Homo sapiens: one gene and its partner. The protein of the gene in region 1 purifies or fractionates together with the protein of each later gene. This does not show direct contact. Each region holds a gene or a part of one and is shown on either strand. Other genes may lie near its edges.

Region 1 (3,656 bases):
TTGTGGTTTGGAATATGTTCTTGCCTTGCCTGAGTCCAGACATGAGTATGTACGGAGTGGTGGTGTTTTGTTTTGACCTATCATGGTGACAGTGATCTCTGATGTTAGCATTCTGTGGAATTGCCTGTGTTCAACAGGAGAACACAAAGACCTAGCTGTGAGTGCCAGGCCAGCTTTTTGGCTGCTGTTCTTTCTCAGGGTTGAGTGAAAAGAGTATTTTTTACTAACTTTAATAAAACTCTTAATTATGACCAAGAGAGAACCACTGAGATAGATAATCTATAAGGTCCCTTCCAACACTGATTCTATATACATTTTTATCATAGTCTTTGGAGGAAGCTTAGAATTTGTTTTTGATTGTATCTATTCAAAATAGCAAATGTTTTACAAGCACATGGTTTAATCTTTAGCAGAACAGTTTGCTTATGCACCAGCTTATGGCCCAGACTACTTCAGTGTTTTCCTTATCTTAGGCATTATACTCAATAAAGTGATGATCCCTCACGACTCCTTCCCCACGCAGATGACCCTGTAAGGCTAGTCTGTTTTTATTGGGTATTGTTCCACTAAGTTAAATCCAATTTGGAAAAAAAAAATTTTCTGTGGACTTTATTAGATGGCTTTTATAGGATACTATTCTTGACTTACATAGACTGAATAATTGACCAGGGTCACACACCTAATAATTGGTGGAGTAGTGCAATTTTGAACTCAGGTAGTACTTCCAGAGTCCATATGTTGAGCGAGAAGCTTGTAGAGGACAGAACCTGGAGGAGTGAGTGTTCTGTGCAGAAAGCACCACAGCCTTATGTGCTATGATAGCCACTGTACTTCGATGGTATTATTTTTGTCTATTTATTGTACTTATAAACTTACATTATTTATCTATGTCTGTCTTCACTGTAAGAATGAGCTGCATAATGATGTGAACTATAATATCAGTACAATGTTGGGGTAAGCAAATTCTTCAGTTGGAGTGTATGCCATGTTTGGATTCACCTGTAAATTGTTAGTAAATGTGTTTCCTATGTGTATGTATAAGCAAGTTTGAATCTGCCTGTTTCCTTTTTTGAAGGTCGGCTTTCTCTCTTTGGGGTTTTCTAGGTGGAAAGTTACCGAGGCTGGACAGTGTAGTGAGACTGCAGTTTAAAGACCACATTGTCCTCACAGTACTGCCGGATCAAGATCAATCTGTGAGTATCCAAGAGGAGGAGATTTCCTGTCTTCTCAGGGTGTTTTTCATCAGAGGCCTCAGGTTATTAGATTAACCACTGGTCTCTGCCCTTCTTTAGGAATCCACCTGCATTCAGTTTAATGCCATTTCTTCAGGTCAGATGATGACCAAATCTCACAGTTCCAATTCCATATTTTCTTGCCCTCATCCTCACAGAACCTTCCTTCATCCCCTTTATGTGGTGATTAATGTCTGGTCTTTGCTTCTCATCCTACTTCGGGCCTTACTGTTCTTGCTTGGACAGCCACAGACCTCATTCCTGAGTTTCTCAGCCCCAGTCCTCCACACTGTGCAGATCTATATTTCTATGTGGTTTTGTGGATATTGTTGCATCTCCTTAAACTCTATCCTGTAGATTATGGAGAACAAAGTATATATTCTGTAATTTTGCTTCCTAGCCCAGTGATTCCCCAAACTGGCTAACTGATCATGGAGTCAATTGGAAAGCTTTTTAAAATTATAAATTCCTGGGTTTCATCTGGTCTTGGAGCCTTTGGATTTATGTTTTGATAGAGCTCCCTGTACAGTCCTAAAGACCTTGGAACGATCTCATACCATATGGCTCCACCTCATTCCTCCTAATCAGCTCTCTAAGGAGCTATCCCATGAATGATCAAGGGGGATGAGAGGGGCACTCAACATGTCTCGATAACCAGATTGTTCCAGCCGTCAGGGCCAGAGTTGGAATATATATATGAATATACATGAATAGATATATATATATATATATATACATCCTCAAAAGTACACATTCCTACATCCCTGTCTAAAAAAAAAATAGTGATTCTGATAACCAGTCAGTTTGAGACATTGTACGCTAGGCTAAGATTTTTTTGCCCTTATCTAAGAGGTGACAAAGAATGACTAAAGGCTCTGGAAGAGACAATAAACTGCACTGTGTAACATGGGGAGTGAAGGGAGATAGGGACCATTTGGGAGGGTAGTGTAATTGAAATGGAGTTTTTTATCGATCACACAGCTGGTATTTCTCAGGAGTTAATGACTTCATGATTATAAATTGTCAGTTTATACCTAGAAATGTCAGATTTTTTTATTCAAAAAAGATAGTGCAGGTATGATTAAAAAAACTGAGGATTTCATTGATAAGTTGATACATAAATCACTGCTTTTTCATTAAATCCTGAAGATGCTCTTCCAGGTAGCACTCCAGCTGTTTTAACAACTTAGAATGCCCATTAATTGCCACATACAAATAGTAACCTGTGGTGACTAATGAAGTATAGACATTGTGTGGATGCACACACCCGTCACTTTTTGCCAAAAGGATTCTTTACAGTATTCAATAAATTTCACTTGAGCACCAAGGCTTTTGAAATTTTTTTTGGTGTTGACCTATTGGAAAACCTTCCTAGTACTGACACCTTCAGTGTTGTGTTGTTGATGGCCTAATGCATTTATTTTTTCCCCAAAGGATGAAGCTCAAGAAAAGATGGTGTACATCTATCATTCCTTAAAGAATAGTAGAGAGACACACATGATGGGAAATGAGGAGGAAACAGAGGTTTGTTTCAACTGAAAACAAATGCCTATCCTGTGACTTGGGTGGTGGTTGGGAAGAATTGATTATTTTTGATTTACAGGTAATATGCTTTTTATGGCTGCACTGTGGACTTAACCATTTTGCACTACTCACAGAGCTCCTGCATGGGGATGATTAAGTCAGACATTTCTGTGATACATGCACACCAGTTTTAAGACATACTAGCTGGGACCTGTAGCCTTATAGGAATGGTATAATGTAAAACATTTCAAATTACTAATATCACTTACTACATAAATTAGGATGCCTTTTATATAGAAGTTGGCATCTTTTATGTTATCTAATTGTAGTGTGTCTAAAATACTCATGAGGGGTATCAAAAATAATGATGTATGGAGAATAAATTTACAGGAAAATGCTACTTCAATGACATAAGTAGTATACATATATTTTGACAAATAAATTTATCCTTTCAGTTTCATGGACTTCGCTTCCCTTTGTCACATTTGGATGCACTGAAGCAAATTTGGAATAGTCCAGCTATTTCTGTCAAGGACCTGAAACTTACTACAGATGAGGAAAAGGAAAGCCTGGTATTATCCCTCTGGACAGAATGTTTAATTCAAGTAGTCTAGTGCCTTTGCAGAATCAAATGCCTACTATTTTATATGCATATATTAAAAGAAAAGCAAAGACCTGAGCCGAGGAGAGGATGAATTCAAGTTTCCTTACCTGCGTATCTACTAACAAACATGAGACCTCCCTGTTACAGGTGGTCAGTTGGCCAAATGTACTAACGGGCACATGAAAGAAAGAACAGCAAATTACCAAGTGTCTCAGAAAATGACAAAACCATATTTTGACAAGTTTATTTAATCCAGTGTGGTAGAAAAGGCACAATTCCAATGTATCATTTAGAAT
Region 2 (3,656 bases), on another chromosome or scaffold:
GTCCTAGCTCCACAATTGTATAAGACTAACTACTGAATGGAAATTACCTAATAACCACCGAGTATCCTAGTTTAAGCTTTTCATGACAAGTATAAAGGAAACAGTAAAGCAAATATGGCACCTTATATATTCAAATATTATGAAAGTCACTACTATACTTTTTAAAGAAAAAGAACATAAAGATAACACAGGAATGTCTTCTCAAAGCCTCTAGGTGAAAAAACTATGACCTTTCAGGAAAGTGCTGCCCAAAACAATGGATATGTAGCACATGTGAGCTACACATGCAATTGTAAATTTTCTATTATCTATATTAAAAAAGCAAAATAAGTAAAATCAAGTTTAATATTACAGGAAATCTAATATATCCATTTTCAATCTAATCAACATAAAAAGATAATGCAATATTTTACATTTTTTATACTGTCTTTAAAATCTGATCTGTATTTTATACTTTCCGTACATATCAATATGAATTTGTCACAGTTAAAGTGCTCAGTAACCACACATAGCCAGTGGTTACAATACCTGACAGAACAGCTCCAGGAGAAAAGCATTTTCATTCTAGAAATAGTGATTAAATCAGGGGCCAATGATATAGTGCAATAACATGCAACTAAGTGCTGAAACATAAATGTGTGTAATGTAGGGTTTTCAACAAACCCCCAAAGTAACTACACACTACATAATATTCTAAAATTTTTTCCACACTCAGAAATTTAACAAAGATAAAGCTGCAGAGCTATAGAGTTGTTCCTTAGTTAGAACTAAAGACTCTACTTTTTAGTATTGGAAGGAGCTTTCCAATTTTTTTTTCCCTTAACAATTCCCCACATTTCTGCATATACAAATACAGAACTGCCACATACCATTCCAACTAAATAATCAGGGCAATTCACCTACAACACTGTGGCTCAATCAACAATAATCACCATTTTAAAGTTTCTGCTCAGTGTGTCCATTTGGAGATAAGATAACAAACTGATCAATTCAAACTACAACCAAGAACTCCTTGCCACTGCTATATAATGCCAATACCTCGGGGGTAGAAGATATAATTCTAGGTTTGCAAAACATAAGGAAATGTAATACACAGAACTGCTAGGTGACCTATTAACAACATCGTATTAATTTTATATCAGAAGGTGATTAATACAAACCTGAAGCAATTAATAATGTGCTACTCTTCTTAACTAATGCAGCCATAATGACATCTGTAATAATGACATCAACATAACATCTTCCTATCTTCAAAGGAATAAGTACTATGTGCATCAAGAGATAAATGAAGAATATTAATGTTGGATTTCAAATTTATTCAAAAGTAAATTAAAAAGAAAAAAGATTCCTTTCCCTTACCTGACACTGATGTACATCGACTTCCAAGAAAACAGCCTGTGGATATTTATTACTCATAGAACTGAATGCTGGGGCAATCCTCAAACATGGCCCACACCTGTTAGAAAAGGAAAATTAAGTAAAATAACACTAAAGATTGTAATTCTAAAGCACTCGTCAATTAAACATAAAATAGAACAAACACTGATACTGCTGGCTTTTGACTCTCTGTTTTTTTTGTTTTGTTTTGTTTTTTGCTTTAGACAGAGTCTCACTCTGTCGGCCAGAGTGGTACTCCAGGCGCCCACCACCACGCCCAGCTAATTTTTGTATTTTTAGTAGAGACATGGTTTCACTGGGTTGGCCAGGCTGGTCTCGAACTCCTGACCTTAGGTGATCCACCTGCCTTGGCCCCTCCCAAAGTGCTGGGATTACAGGCGTGAGCCACCAAGCCGGTCTTTTTTTTTTTTTTTTTTTTTTTTGGAGACAAGGTCTCATTCTATAACCCAGGCCAGAGTACAGTGGCATGATCATGGCTCACTGCAGTCCCAATCTTCCAGGCTCAAGCAATCCTCCCACCTCAGCCTTCCAAGTAGCTGCAACTACAGGTGCATGCCACCACACCCAGCTACCAAGCTACATTTTTTTTTTTTTTGAGAAGCAGGGTCTCACTATATTGCCCAGGCTGGTCTCAAACTCCTGGGTTCAAGTGATCCTCCTGCCTTGGGCCTCCCAAAGTGCAGACATTACAGGCATGAACCATAACCCTAGGCCTGATTCTCTGGTCTATTTGAGTAAGTTATTTACATATACTTGTATCAATACTATACTGTCTTAATGAGCCCAGATGTTACATTTAGTCTTCATAACTAATAGTGTTAAGTCTTCTAGCTTTGTTCTCACTGAGAGAAATTAAAGAAAACCTAAATAAATGGAGGAATTTACTCTGCTTATGAATTTGAAACTCAATATTGCCAAGATACCAATTTTACTCAATTTGATCTTTACAACTGATGTAAGATCTCAGCAGGTTTTCTTGTAGAAATTAACAAATTTCCATTCTAAAAATTATAGAGAAATGCCAAGGACAGCCCAAGTCGTTTTGAGGTTCTAATCTGAAAAAATTATATTATCAGATCTTAAGAACTATCATAAACCTTTATTAAGAGAATATAGTACTTGTACAAGAATAAGCAAAATGATCAAATCAGTTTTCCTTTGAAAGAAGAGTCTAGAAACAGACCCATCTCACATACAGTACTCTGATGTCTGAAAAACTTGATGTAGCATTGCAGTGGGAAAAGGATGGTCTTTTCAATAAATACTGCTAGATCAACTATATACTCATACAGGAAAAGAAATGAATCTCAACACACCATACACAAAAACCAATTCCAGATGGGTTGTAGATCTAAATGTAAAAGGTGAAACAAGGAGGGTTTTAGGAAAAAATACAGGAAGACACTTTCAAAACCTCAAACTAAGCAATGATTTCTTATACAAAACACAAGAAGTACTAAAAAAAAAAAAAGGTTTGACAGACTGGACTATATTTGATAAACTGGAAGATTAAAACCTTTTATTCATCAAAAAATGTCTTTAAGAGACTAGGAAAAAGTATTTGCAAAACATATCAAACAAAGGACTTATACTTCTAATACGTAAAGAACTCCTACAAAACAAGGAGAAGACTGAAACCCAAAAGAAAAAGAATGAACCCTTGAATAGGTACTTGACAAATGAGATTATCCAAACAGTCAATAAATAAAGTCAAAAACTTTCTATAAAGCAGGAAAGATGTTCTACTTCATTAGTCATCAGGGATACCCGGGAAATGCAGATTAAAACCAACTCAGCAAAAATAGCTACAAGAAGAATTAAGTATTGTCAAGAATGCAGAGCAACTAAACTTTTATATACTGTGAGAGTGCAAGCTGGTATTAACCATTTTGGAGGGAAAAAAACCAAACTGCTAAAATACACCAACCCATCAAAATTCCTGGGGAATACATCTAAGACACATGTTCACCTTAGAACATTTGAAAAAGTATTATTAGTAATAGTTCTAAGAGTCAAAAATCAGAAACAATTAAATTCTTATCAACAAAAGAATGGGTAAGCTAATTATAGTTATACAATGAAATACTACACAATAATGAAAATAACTGGTATAAAACCTCTTGCAAAAACATGGATGAACCTCACAAATAACATTGAGGAAAGAAAGCAACTACTAGCATATACTATATGACTACATACAGTTCAAATACAGACAAAACCAATCAATGGTATCAGAAATCAAGACAATGGTTACCTTA

What was found.
Region 2: the proteins of RIOX2 (region 1) and TXNL1 fractionate together in Homo sapiens (co-fractionation; one large-scale study listed by BioGRID). This does not show direct contact.

The regions. Positions count from the first base shown.
Region 1 is NC_000003.12:97,944,898-97,948,553, reverse strand, and holds part of RIOX2 (ribosomal oxygenase 2), read left to right. Parts: intron 1-1,104; coding exon 1,105-1,193; intron 1,194-2,666; coding exon 2,667-2,756; intron 2,757-3,211; coding exon 3,212-3,370; 3' UTR 3,371-3,656. UniProt on the Homo sapiens protein: Oxygenase that can act as both a histone lysine demethylase and a ribosomal histidine hydroxylase. Is involved in the demethylation of trimethylated 'Lys-9' on histone H3 (H3K9me3), leading to an increase in ribosomal RNA expression.
Region 2 is NC_000018.10:56,625,002-56,628,657, forward strand, and holds part of TXNL1 (thioredoxin-like protein 1), read right to left. Parts: intron 1,457-3,656; coding exon 1,360-1,456; intron 1,266-1,359; exon of another isoform or gene 1,161-1,265; intron 1-1,160. UniProt on the Homo sapiens protein: Active thioredoxin with a redox potential of about -250 mV.